Regions from separate parts of the Homo sapiens genome. Here region 2 is linked to region 1. A link means that fine-mapping ties the variant in region 1 to the expression of a gene that starts in the linked region. Tissue or cell type: whole blood. Region 1 holds a variant in brackets; the other region holds the start of a gene. All regions are shown on one strand. Distances are from middle to middle.

Region 1 (7,963 bases):
CTCGGGAGGCTGAGGCAGGAGAATCACTTGAACCCAGGAGGTAGAGATTGTGGTGAGCCAAGATCGCACCATTGCACTCCAGCATAGGCAACAAGAGTGACACTCCGTCTCAAAAAAACAAAACAAACAGCCGGGTGCAGTGGCTCACGCCTGTAATCCTAGCACTTTGGGAGGCCAAGGTGGGCAGATCATGAGGTCAGGAGATCGAGACCATCCTGGCCAACACGGTGAAACCCCGTCTCTACTAAAAATACAAAAAATTAGCTGGGTGTGGTGGCGGGCACCTGTAGTCCCAGCTACTCGGAAGGCTGAGGCGGGAGATTGGCATGAACCCGAGGCGGAGCTTGCAGTGAGCCGATATTGTGCCACTGGACTCCAGCCTGGGTGACAGAGTGAGACTCGGTCTCAAAAAAAAAAAAAAAAAACCCCACAAAGCAAAACAAAACAGGGCCAGTTGCAGTAGCTCACGCCTGTAATCCCAGCACTTTGGGAAGCCGAGGTGGGCAGATCACTTGAGGTCAGGAGTTTGAGAACAGCCTGGCCAACAGGGCGAAACCCCATCTTTACTAAAAATACAAAAATTAGCAGGACATGGTGGCACACACCTGTAATCCCAGCTACTGGGGAGGCTGAGGCAAGAGAATTGCTTGAACCAGGGAGGCAGAAGTTGCAGTTAGCTGACATCGCGCCACTGCACTCCAACCTGGGCGACAAAGTGAACCTCTGTCTCATAAAAAAACAGGCCCAGAAGATTGTGGGGGTTATGTGTTGAGGAGCAGTGGGCTAGGCTTCTGTTATGGATCCCCTTACTCAGAGTTAGATTTTTTTTATAGAAGCTGAGCCTTGGAATATCCATTGAATACACAAGTATTTCATCATGTTTTAAGAAAATCTGTAAACTTTATTTTAGATGCTTGCCTAGTAGTTTATCTGGTATTCAGAATTTACATATTGCTTCTGAGGAACATTTTTGGTTGTTTTTATTCTTTTAATAACATTTTAAAAGAAACACTGTGGTTAAAAAAACAAAAATTTGTGCAAAAAACGTTTTCCATGCTATACTATTTTCAGAGAATAAGATTCCTAGATGTGTAATTATTGAGTTAAAGGGTGTGAACTTTTGAAACATTTGCTGCCTTTCAGGAAAGTGCTAATATACACTCCAGAAAAATCCTAATTTGGGCTGGGCGAGGTGCCTCATGCCTGTAATCCCAGCACTTTGGGAGGCCAAGGTAGGAGGATCCCTTGAGCCCAGGAGCTCTAGACCAACCTGGGCAACATAGCAGACCCTGTCTACAAAAAATTTAAAAATTAGCCAGCATGATCGCACCACTGCACTCCAGTCTGTGTGACAGAATGAGACCCTGACTTGAGAAAAAGAAAAGCAAAATTCTAACTTGAAATATTGTCAGGTAGCGTTTTTTCTATAGAGATAAAAGGTCCATGCTTTATGTAATCACTCTTAGCTGGTATTTAATTCTTCCACTCAGGAAATCACTATCTTTGATGCATACACCTTTGCATAAACCTCTGGTTTAATCAGCCTCATTTGGATAAAATGTTTATTCTACTAATGAATGGACATGACAGGAAGACATTTTAGCTCAACATCAGGAAGGGCTTTCCAAAGGGAACTGTTCAATCTGCAGTATTAGAGGTGGGTGAGCAGATGTCACGCATGTCTGTGTGAAGACGCCACCAACAGGCTTTGTGTGAGCAACAAGGCTGTTTATTCACTTGGGTGCAAGTGGGCTGAGTCTGAAAAGAGAGTCAGCGAAGGGAGATGGGGAAGGGGTTGCCCTATAGGAGTTGGGTAGGTAATGGAAAATTACACTAAAAGGTGGTTATCTATTGTTAGCAGAGGAGGGGGGTCACAAGGTACATGGTAGGGAGATCATAAGACTCATTGTCCAGAAGAAGAATGTCACAAGGTCAATCGATCCATTAAGGTAGGGCAGGGACCAGTCACAATGGTGGAATGGTGGAATGTTGGTTAATCTGTTAAGGCAGGAACTGGCTGTTTTACTTCTTTTGTGGTTTTTCAGCTGCCCCAGACTTCTTGGCTCCTGCAGGCCATCTGGACACATATGTGCAAGTCACAGGGGTTACAATGGCTGAGCTTCGGCGCAGAGGCCTGACATTCCTGTCTTTTTATTTATAAAATATAAAGTTATAAGAAAAGATAAAGAAAATATAAGTTTTTACTGGGGATTATTGGGGCAGGGGCGATGTTTCTCAGGGCTGCTTCAGGCATGACTTAGGGGCAGCATGGACACCTAAAGAAAATTTAATTTTATAGTGAGTTGGTCTAGAAAGTTTTCGGGTACAATTTTGTGTGGCTAACAAGGCACCAGTTAGCATATTTTTGAGCTTGGAATTCTCCTAGTAGAATAAATTATCTAAAAATAGCAATTAAGCATAATAGCTTTAAGGTAGGTGGCAGTGAGTTTTTAGGCCAAGGTAGGAATAACGTTTTATATACCAAGGCCTTTTGTCCCCATTTGCCATCATATGAATAGGATCCCCTGGCATCGAGCCAAAAGTCTATTATGTTACTTTTTTCCCAAAGGTGTGAGTGGTGTTTTGAATGGAGGAGTTCAATAGTCCTTACTGCAGACCCTATACAGGAAAGACAGTAAGTACAATAGTCCCTGTCTCCTGGAATAAGTTGGGGCTGGCAAAGAGAGAAATGTCCTAGGCCTTCTAATAACCAATGACAGACCATGTGTCGTCCTGGATGTTGACCTGAGTGCCAGATATGTGGAACTGGTCCTCTATATGCATATTGCTGGTCATTTCTATATGAGTAGGCCTGAGGACCCCATGGGCAAGGATTTGACAGCTGCCACCCCAGGCATTTTAGATTTTTAATTCAGAGGTCTTTGATTTTGGGGGTGGGGAACATTTTGGAGGACAAGGCCTGAAGGAAGTTGTTTTTATAGACAGCAGGTCCTCAGAGATTATGGTTTAGAGGAACGGGTGAAGCAGGCCTGGAAGTATGTTTGGACAGCCGTTTGGAGGGGGTGTTGCACAGAAGCTTGGTCTTGTCTGGATGTTGCCAGGAGTTCATCACTGGTTTAGTCCTAAAGGTGAGAAGGAGTATAATAGGACGAGGAATAGAAGTTTAGGCTGTGGGGAGATTTTGGGGCACCGGATAGTACCATGGGGTTGTTAGAAGCAGCAACTGCAGTATGGAATGATTGGTGATGGCCTGGATGCGGTTTTGTGTGAATTGAGGGACTAAATGAAAGACAAAAGGCCCAAATAAGAGAAGGAGAAAAACAGGTACCAGGGGACTAAGAGTAGGAAGGAGCCAAGACGCCCAGTTAAAAAGTGCCCAGGTAGGTCCAGCATAATTATTTGCCTGGCTGGCGAGTTTTGGGGCCCTAACTTTAAGCTTTTTTATGTTGTCATATAGCAGGCTGGATTGATTTAGATAAAAACAACATTCTTCATTTAAAAATATGCAGAGTTCTCCTTTTTCAGCAGTGAGTAGGTCAAGGCCTTGGTGATTTTGGAGGACAACTGCGACTAAGGAACCGACCTGGGCCCGAAGGACTGATAAAGTTTGTGATATATCTGTAATGCTAGCAGGAAAGTCATTAGAAAGACAATGGAAGGTTGTGACAGAAGTTGAAATGCCAGGTAGGTCAGAGAGATACAGTCATGGGGGTCAGGTGTGGTATCAGGAATAATGTGGGAGGCCGGATTGAAGTCTGGGCCAGGAACAATGGTAATTATGGGAGACTCAACAAAGAGTGAGTATAGCTGAAGGAGCTGGAGGGGCAGAAAGTATATGCATCAGGTTTGAGGAAGAAAATAGATTTTGAAAGTTATGAGAACTGTAGAGAGTGAGTTGAGCATAGTTTGCGATTTTAAGGGC[C/T]TCTAAAAGTATTAGAGCGGTGGCAGCTGCCACACGCAAACATGAGGGCCAGCCTAAAACAGTAAGGTCAAGTTGTTCAGACAAAAAGGCTACAGGGCGCGGTCCCGGTCCTTGTGTAAGAATTCCGACCACACAGCCCTGTACTTCAGCTGTGTGTAATGAAAAGGGTTGGGATGAGTCAGGGAGAGCTAGTGTGGTAGCAGTTTCTAGAGCTGTTTTCAAGGAATGGAAAGAGGAGTGGGGAAAGGATTTAGGATCTGTGGGGTTGGCTAGGTTTCCCTTTCTGAGTTTATATAATGGTTTCGAGAATAAATGTTGAAGGAGCAGGAGGGTGTCTTGTTGAGAAGATTTAAAGGAGGGGCTACAAAGTAGAAGGTCATCAATATATTGAATAAGGTGAGAAGCAGAGGGGTGGAAAGAAAGTAAATCATGAGAAAGAGCTTGGCTGAAGGAATGAGGGCTGTCCCTGAAGCCTCGTGGCAGTACAGCCCAGGTAAGTTGCTGGGACTGATGGGTGTCAGGGTCAATCCAGGTAAAAGCAAAGAGGGCTGGGACGAGGGGTGCAGGGGAATAGTGAAAAAAGCATCTTTAAGATCAAGAACGGAATAGTTGTGGAGGAAGGTATTGAGGACAAAAGAGTGTACGGGTTGGGCACCACAGAGTGGATAGGCAAAACAATTTGGTTGATAAGGCACAGATCCTGAATTAACTTGTAATACTTGTCCGGTTTTTGGACAGGTAAAATGGGGGAATTGTAAGGAGAGTTTGGAGGCTTTAGAAGCCCATACTGTAGCAGACGAGAGATAATAGGCTTTAGTCCCTTTAAAGTCTGTTGTGGGATGGGACACTGGCACTGAGGGGGGTAAGAGTGATTAGGTTTTAATAGGATAGTAATGGGTGTGTGATCGGTTGCTAGGGAGGGAGTAGAGGTATCCCATACTTGTGGGTTAAGGTGGGGGGATACAAGAGGAAGAAGTGAAGGAGGCTTTGGGTTGGGAAGAAGGGTGGCAATGAGATGTGGCTGTCGTCCAGGAATAGTCAGGGTGGTGGATAATTTTGTTAAAACATCTCAACCTAATAAGGGAACTGAGCAGGTGGGAATAACTAAAAAGGAGTGCATAAAAGAATGTTGTACAAGTTGTCACCAAAGTTGGGGAGTTTTAAGAGGTTTAGAAGCCTGGCTGTCAATACCCACAATGGTTATGTGGGCAAGGGAAACAGGTCCTTGAAAATAAGGTAATGTGGAGTGGGTAGCCCCTGTATCGATTAAAAAGGGGACAGACTTACCCTCCACTGTGAAAGTTACCCGAAGCTTGGCATCCATGATGGTCCAGGGGGCTTCCAAGGTGATTGGGCAGCGTCAGTCTTCAGCCACTAAGCTGAGCAGGTCTGGTAAGGAGTCAGTCAGAGACCCTTGGGCCAGAGCTTTAGGGGCTGGGCTCTGGAAGTGGCTGCCGGGTGAGCTGGGCGGTCTGATTTCCAGTGGGTCACTGCACAGATGGAACATGGCTTGGGAGGAATCCTGGGCTGCAGGCATTCCTTGGCCCACTGGCCAGATTTCTGGCACTTGAAGCAAGATCCTGAGGGAGGAGGTCCTGTAGGAAAGCCTGACCACTGCAGCTTAGGCATTTTGAAGTTCTTGTGTGCCGGAGGTGCAGCTGGGTTTTGTCTCACAGCAGAGGCAAGTAATTGTAACTCAGAAATGTGTTTCTGCTTGGCTGCCTCTTCTCTATTATTGTACACATTGAAGGCGAGGTTGATTAATTCCTGTTGTGGGGTTTGAGGGCCAGATTCAAATTTTTGAAGCTTTTTTCTGATGTCAGGAGCTGACTGGGTGATGAAATGCATATCAAGAATAAGACAGCCTTCTGGCCCTTCAGGGTCTAGGGCTATAAAGCATCTAAGGGTAGCCACCAAACAGGCCATGAACTGGGCTGGGTCTTCATCTTTACCTTGGGTAGTTTCTTTAAGTTTGTCATAATTAACAGATTTGTATGCTGCCTTTTTAAGCCCTTCAACTAGGCAGGAAATCATGTAATCTCACCTAGCTATACCTGAGGAACCTGCCTGATAGTGCCACTGGGGATCTTCTCAGGGAACCGTCTGTAATACCTTCCTGGAGGCCTGGCTCATAATGCCAGTGGGTGTCTGTGTGGGACTAGGCTAGAGGAAACACTCTTTCCCATTCATCTGGGGAGAGGGTAGAAATTAGGATGACATTTAAGCCACTCCAGGTTAAATTGTAAGACTGGGTTAAATACTGGAATTCATGTATATATTTGGTGGGGTCTGACGAGAAGGAGCCTAAGTGTTGATTAATTTGGGAAAGGTCTGATAGAGAAAATGGTACATGCACTCTGACGATGCCCTCAGTTCCAGCCACTTCTTGAAGAGGAAATTATTGGGCAGGTGGGGGAGTATTTGCCGCAGAACGAAATTGTAAGCTGGACCAGGTGTGGGGAGGGGAGATGATAGAAGGGTTGTAGGGTGGGGAAGTGGAGGCTGAGGAAGAGTTGGAAGCTGATTCAGCCTGGTGGGGAGCGACCTGAGGAGGAGCAGTCTAGGGAGGAGGGTAGAAGTCAGATGGGTCGGTAGAAAAGAAATATTCAAAAGACTCACCGGCACTTCAGGTTGGGACTGAAGGGACAGGCGGGAGGGAAAGAAGGAAGATTTGCGGCAAGTCGCACTGGGAACAGAGATTAGGGAAGGAACGAAGTGTAAAAAATGCCTGGATGTAGGGCACCTCAGACCATTTGCCCATTTTATGACAAAAATTATCTAGATCTTGTAGGCTGGAGAAATCGAAAGTGCTCTTTTCTGGCCATTTAGAGCCATTATCAAGTTTGTATTGGGGCCAAGTGGTGTTGCAGAAGAAAATAAGACACTTAGGTTTTAGGTCAGGTGAGAGTTGAAGAGGTTTTAAGTTTTTAAGAACACAGGCTAAGAGAGGAAGAAGAAGGAATGGAGGGCTGAAGGTTGCCCATAGTAAAAAGGTAAGTTTAGAGAAAGGAGGAGGTTGAGACATGGAGAGAGGGGGGGTGGTACTTGCCACCCAGGGGAAGTGGTACTTGCCACCAAGGTGGAAGATCAAAACAGGTGTCCCCGCAGTGATCGAACACCTCTGAAATGTGGGTGAATAATCAGGCAGGCGTCCCTGCAGTGACTAAACACAAGGGAAGACAGTCTTCCCGAGTCCATGACCAGCGCCAGAGTTTTGGGTCCACAGATAAAACGGGTCTCCTCTGTCTCTACCAGACAGGGAAAGGAACCGAAATTAAGGGAAGGGAGAGACTGAAGGGTGGTGCCGAAATTGAAAGGAGAAAGAGGTTGAGGGATAGTGAAAGAGGTTGAAGAAGAGAGTAGAAAGAGGCCACTTACCCGATTTAAAATTGGTGAGATGTTCCTTGGGCTGGTCTGAGGACCCGAGGTCGTAGGTAGATCTTCCTCACGGAGCAAAGAGCGGGAGGACAGGGGATTGATCTCCCAAGGAAGGTCCCCCGATCCAAGTCATAGCACCAAATGTCAAATGCATCCGTGTGAAGAGACCACCAACAGGCTTTGTGTGAGCAACAAGGCTGTTTATTCACTTGGGTGCAAGTGGGCTGAGTCCGAAAAGAGAATCAATGAAGGGAGATGGGGAAGGGGTTGCTTTATAGGATTTAGGTAGGTAATGGAAAATTACAGTAAAAGGTGGTTGTTATCTATTGTTAGCAGGGGAGGGGGTCACAAGGTACATGATGGGGAGATCATAAGACTTATTGTCCAGAAGAAGAATGTCACAAGGATGGTTGATCAGTTAAGGTAGGGCAGGGACCAGTCACAATGGTGGAATGTTTGTTAATCAGTTAAGGCAGGAAGTGGCTGTTTTACTTCTTTTGTGGGTTTTTGGCTGCCCCAGACTTCTTGGCTCCCGCAGGCCATCTGGACGCATATGTGCAAGTCACAGGGGTTACAATGGTTGAGCTTCGGCTGAGAGGCCTGACAGCAGAGACTGGAAAATTGCTTAACAGAATTATAAATTCCTTCTTTCATTACTCAAACCTTTTTTTTTTTCTTTTTGAGACGAAGTTTCGCTCTTGT
Region 2 (6,288 bases), 490 kb after region 1:
GACTACAGGCACCCGCCACCATGCCTGGCTAATTTTTTTGTATTTTTTAGTAGAGACGGGGTTTCACCGTGTTAGCCAGGATAGTCTCGATCACCTGACCTCGTGATCTGCCCGCCTCGGCCTCCCAAAGTGCTGGGATTACAGGCGTGAGCCACCGCGCCCGGCCGATGGGTTGTTGTAAGAATTAATTAAGATAACTCTCATAAATTTCCTTGCAAAATGCTTGGCCTATAACAGCTGACAACTGAATATTCTTATCTCCCTTATATTGGCAGAAAACAAACAAAGGGAAGATCATACTGCATTATAAATTTCTGTAACTAATAGTAATCAACAATTGTCTATTTTGTTCTACCCATGCAAACAGACTCTAGCACTGTCCAATCCTGTACCCACTAGCTACAGCACAATTTGACAACTGACCACTTGAAATGTGGCTACTCTGAATCTAATTTCAGTTAATTTAAGTGTAAACAGCCACATGCAGCTAGTGGCTACTGAATTGCACAGTGCAGGTCTAGACTCCTAAAGCAGTGCTTCTTTACCTTGGTTTCATAATGGGATCACCTGTGAAGCTTTACAATACACCGCTGCCTAGGCCCCTTGCCAGAGCAATTGGATTTTAATCTGTGGGCCCAGAACAAGGACGTTTAAAGAGCTCCCCAGGTGATTTTAATACAGAGAGAAACACTGCTCTAGTGTTCCCTTTATACTCTCCCTCTCCCCCATCAATTAGTACCCTCATTTCAAGAAAAAAAGGGCAGTGTTTTTGATCTGTTGATATTTTATAGATACTTCTAATAACTTTCCTTATATCTATGACTGGATCTATAACTCCAAGTATTATCTGTGTCTCTTCTCTCAAATTTTTTGTCACTGATAAAATAGGGAATGGCTAATATATACAGTATTATCTATGGAATCATAAATATGTATTAAAAGTAGACAGAAAGAATATCAACTTCAGGTTAATCAAGAGAGGGAAGAGGAACATAGGTATTGAAAAATCCAACTGTAGTTAATGTTCTATTGATGTAAAAATTCTTTTTTAAGTTTTTACTGCTTTTAATTGTAGAAATAAAGAGCTAAACCATAGCATAACTCTTTTTGCAGTGACAATTCTGTTCATATACAGGGGATGTTTCTGCTTTAGCTAAAATCTAAAACTTCAATAAATAAGCAACTACCCACCAATCCCTCAAATATGCCTGTACTTGTCACTCTTTTTCTCTTTTTCTTTTTTTTTTTCTTTTGAGACAGACAGGGTCTCTATAACCCAGGCTGGAGTGCAGTGGCACTATCACAGCTCACCACAATCTCAACCTCCTGGACTTGGGTGATCCTCCCACCTTAGCCTCCCAAGTAGTTGGGACTACAAGTGCGCACCAGCACGCCCGGCTAATTTTTGTATTTTTTGGAGAGATGGGATTTCTCTTATGTTGCCCAGGCTAGTCTCGAACGCCTGGGCTCAAGCGATCCACCTGCCTTGGCCTCCCAAAGTGTTGGGATGACAGGTGTGAGCCACCGTGCCCGGCCCCCTTCACTCTTCTATACCACTTATTTCCATTTATGTCTACTTAAAAAGTGGTACTAGACCTAAAGAAGGGGAAATTGATTGGGAAGGCTTGCTTTCTTTCTTTTTTTTGAGACAGAGTCTCACTGTTGTCGCCTGGGCTGGAGTAAAATGGCGCGATCTCAGCTCACTGCAACCTCCGCCTCCCGGGTTCCAGCAATTCTCCCGCCTCAGATTCCCGAGTAGCTGAGATTACAGGCGCCCACCACCATGCCTGGCTAAATTTTTTTTGTATTTTTAGTAGAGACGGGGTTTCACCATGTTGGCGAGGCTGGTCTCAAACTCCTGACCTCAGGTGATCCACCCACCTCGGTCTCCCAAAGTGCTGGGATTACAGGCGTGAGCCACCGCGCCCGGCTGAAGGCTTTCATTTTTACCCTAGAAGGTCAAGTACGTGTTTAGGAGTCCTTATCTTGAAGTTTGCTTCTAGTCATTGTTTCACTTTTAATGGGCAGAAGATTATTACCACAAATTTCCTTTGTTGTTATTTCTGCCTCCACAGTCTTTTATAATTTAGATGTAGTCCCAATAAAGATATTCTGTTGTAATCATTTAAAATGACACATTTCATCATTAAATACTTGTGTTTTGGATTTCCTCCTCCCACTTAGGACTAGATTGCCCACTGCATCTGAGATCTGTCAAAGTAAACAAATGGTTTAAAAGAAATCAACAGATTTCTCAAGAGTTATATTTTAAAAAGCATCTTTAATTTGAAGCAAGTTATCATTTAAACATTTTTCTTAATAGGTCACTTAAAAGTTCATGTATAACTCAAAATGAATTATTAAGGAAATAAGAAATTTCATAACTCAAAATGAATTATTAAGGAAATAAGAAATGACTTTAAATCATTTATAGGACTAAAATGGAACTACAAAATTTCTACCCTCCGCTCTTATACTAACCAATCATGTGCCTTGTGCTTTAAATCGAAAGGAACTTTGTAAAGCCAGGATCATTTTTCAGTAAGAGTATCCGAAACGATCTATACCACCTTGGCATGAAGAAAGAGGCAGTTAATAAGTTATCTTTCCTTTCTACCATTAAAACAATCCCTTTGTAGGATATCTGAACCCTTGGCAATATCTCACAGTATCTCAGTTTCAGCACAGAGGTGGCTCCTTTCTCTGGGTGTTCAAAGCAGCACTGCATGAAGGCTCTACGTGTCGGCCCTACTGGTTAAGAACGGGCTGCAAAATGGTTAGAATAACGGGGATACCAGCATTTACATCATAGCGGGATAGACGGTTTCAAATGTATTTTAGTAAAGAACTTACAGCCTCATGTCATAGAGGCTCTGGAAGTGCCAAGTATTTGGTGAGAATGACAAACCTGCATAGACCAAAAAGGTGATGAGTGCAGCCAGCAGGTGGATACGAAGCTTGGTTCGGACTTCCTGGAAGTGCAGCAGAGCGCTGTGGAAGAGAAAGGAGCAGACGGCCTCTGTGATGACCGCTTTGAGCAAGTCGACTCGGATGGGATTCTTGCAAGCGAAGCTCCTCTCGCTGACGTGATACTGGGTCAGACCCAAGCTCCACAAGGCGCTTGTGCAGTACCTGCTGCACAGGGCACTAACCAGCTGAGCCAATAGCCTCACCGCACCCGTCTCGGGGGACATGCCCCCCAGCATCATCTGCATCATCACGCCGCACGGGTTGCTGGACGTGCCCACCAGAGTCAGGCCATGCACAAGCGAGAAGAAGTAGACGAGCGTCAGCGTCCAGGTGGGGTGCGCGGGGTGCTGTTCGCTCAGCAGTTGCAGCTCGTGGGTGCAGCAGCAGAGCTGGAAGGTGGCTAGAAACTCCAGGACGAAGGCGTGGGCCACCGGCCTGTGCAGCTGCTGCCGGGCGACTACGCGGGCCAGCCCCATGAGCAGCACCACCGACAGCATCAGTCCCAGCGAGGTGCAGGTGTCCTGCAGCTCGGACCGGAGCCCCAGCAGCGGCGACATGGCTCCGTCGCCGCCTGAGCGGGTTGCGGGCTCCGGCTCTGGGTAGGAGGCGGTCTCCAGGCCCGAGTCCGAAGTCCGCAGCCCCTCCCCTCCTCACGCCCCTCGGGGCGGGACGAGCGGGAGGCTCCCGAGCGGCACACTTAAGAAGTCCTCCCCGCCTCCCCGGCTTGGCGCTGGGGTGTTGGAACCAGAGCCGAGGAGGCGGGGAGGCGGGGAGGCGGGGAGGCGCGGGGAGGCGCGGGGAGGCGAAGGGAGGTAGCCTAGGGCGCCGGCCGCAGGGCCAACGGTCAGCCGAGCCCACCGCGCACTCACCCTCCGCAGTCTCCCTCAGGGCCTTGTAGGCGGGCGCGGCGGCGGAGGGCCGGCGCGGCGCGGTCGACGCAGCGCTCTTGGTGCCCACTGCGCACGCGTGCTGCGGCCCTTGCGCCCCTGCGGGCGGTGACACCCGGACCACGGGGCGGAGAGGAGCGGCACGGCGCGGCGGAGCTCTGATGGTTGCTTTGCAGCGAGGACCTTAGAGTTTTTCTTTCCCCGCTCCACACTGTAAAACCGTGGAGCTGGAAAGACCGCTGAAGGCCATCTCACATAGCCACCTCGTTTTTATCAATGGGCGACTGAAATTGAGAGGGGAGACGCGGCGCAGGGGGCGGGTGAGTTAGTGGGCGTAGACCGGTGCGCAGGGCCTCCTGGAGCCTTGCTTTTCTTCACCTGCCAAAAAACATTTCTAAAAATGGTGGTAATATATGCCAGATAAAATTCGCCACTTTAATCAATTTAAGTGTATATTTCAGTGGCATCGATTACCCTCACAGTGTTGTTCAACAGTCACCTCTTTTTTCCAGAACTTGAGCGGTGATTCTTCAAAGTGTAGCCTAGTTTTAGCATGTGACTGTCTATAACCTTTGGCATGAACTCTTTACGTATAATATGAAACAGTTGTGTCTTACTGTTACATGCACTCTTCGTGAAGAGGAAACAACAGGTAACTGGAGAGGTCTGTTTCCAAGAACTGGGGGTCCTGGCGCACCTCTTCCATCTGCTTTGAAAGCAGGAATACGGCTGCGTGAGGTGGAGCGCGTCCGGAGTCCCAGCACGGAGAGGCTTAGGTGGGAAGACCGCTTGACCCCAGGAGTTCCAGGCTGCAGTGAGCTGAGATCGCGCCACTGCACCCCTGCCTGGGCCACAGAGCGAGACGCTGTTTTTAGAAACAAAAACAACAACAAAAACCGGGCGCGGCTGGGCGCGGTGGCTCACGCCTATAATCCCAGCACTTTGGGAGGCCGAGGCGGGCGGATCACCGGAGGTCGGGAGTTCGAGACTAGCCTGACCAACATGAGAAACCCCCGTCTCTACTAAAAATACAAAATTAGCCGGGCATGGTGGCGCATGCCTGTCATCCCAGCTACTCGGGAGGATGATGCAGGAGAATCGCTTGAACCCGGGAGGCAGAGGTTGTGGTGAGCCTAGATCGCGCCATTGTACTCCAGCCTGGGCAACAAGAGCGAAACTCCGTCTCAAAAACAACAACAACAACAACAACAACAACAACAAACCAGTCAAACAAACAAAAAACAAAACATGAAAGCCACTTAGTACAGTTCCCAATACGTAGAAAATATTCACTAAGTGGTAGCTTACAGTGGAAACAGCAGGTTTCAGCAGCCAGAGTGCACGGCTCTTGCCACCGCATTCCAGTCCCAACAGCTTGTCCCCTGGGGTGGCCCATTGTAGGTGCAGCACTTTGGGAGTCCGAGGCAGGCGGATAACGAGGTCAGGAGTTCAAGACCAGCCTGGCCAACATAGTGAAACCCCGTCTCTACTAGAAATACAAAAATTAGCTGGGCATGGTGGTGCGCACATGTAGTCCCAGCTACTCGGGAGGCTGAGGCAAGAGAATCCCTTGAACCCGGGAGGTGGAGGTTGCAGTGAGCCAAGACAGTGCCACTGCACTCCAGTTTGAGCAACAGAGTGAGACTTCGTCTAAAAAAAAAAAAAATTCTTTCACAAGACACAAACTAGTAGAAAATCAAGACCTTTTCTCTTTCCTGTGTTGATTGCCTGGCCAGAAAGAATTTAAATTAGAATTATTTATTATTATTATTTTTTTAAGACAGAGTCTCGCTCTGTCTCCCAGACTGGAGTGTAATGGCGTGATCTCAGCTCACTGCAACTTCTGCTCCCGGGTTCACGCCATTCTCCTGCCTCAGCCTCCCGAGTAGCTGGGACTACAGGCGCCTGCCACCACACCTGGCTTTTTTTTTTTTTTTTTTTTTTTTTTTTTTTTTTTTTTTGTATTTTTTAGCAGAGATGGCGTTTCACTGTGTTAGCCAGGATGATCTTGATCTCCTGACCTTGTGATCTGCCCGCCTCGGCCTCCCAAAGTGCTGGGATTACAGGCGTGAGCCACCGCGCCCGGCAATTAGAATTACTTTTAAGTCACTGCTGTTTAAAGAAGTTGCCTTTAAATCAATCCTATGAATGTAACCCTTTCAGTGCTCCCCTAGACTTGAAGTCACTTGAGGATTAATGTGAATGTATTTTATTTACTGCTCTGCTGATAATTCACTTTTACCCGGAAGAGTCATGTAGAAAACCAGTGTTTTGGACTTTGGTAAGAAATTTTAGTATCGTGGTAATACATATTGTCATTAAAAGGACTTTGGACATTTTTTAAATTAAAGAACAAGGGCAAAATTAACATAATTAATTACTACTGATTGGATATTTTGCATCAAATCAACCTTCCTATTTTCAGAAACAA

Evidence for each region. PIP is the estimated chance that this variant, and not a neighbour inherited with it, causes the effect.
Region 2: it holds the start of AQP11, and the variant in region 1 is fine-mapped to the expression of AQP11 in whole blood (INTERVAL, PIP above 0.99).

Annotation. Positions count from the first base shown.
Region 1 is chr11:78,080,740-78,088,702 of GRCh38, reverse strand. It overlaps LOC105369401 (a long non-coding RNA gene), which reads right to left and starts at 7,508. Exons shown (of 3, transcript XR_950342.2): 1 at 7,262-7,508; 2 at 5,171-5,373; 3 at 1,708-3,083. The variant C/T (reference allele first, on the strand shown) is at 3,884.
Region 2 is chr11:77,587,232-77,593,519 of GRCh38, reverse strand. It overlaps AQP11 (aquaporin 11), which reads right to left and starts at 3,567. Exons shown (of 3, transcript NM_173039.3): 1 at 2,909-3,567. The coding sequence starts at 3,527. RefSeq lists a silencer at 3,591-4,220.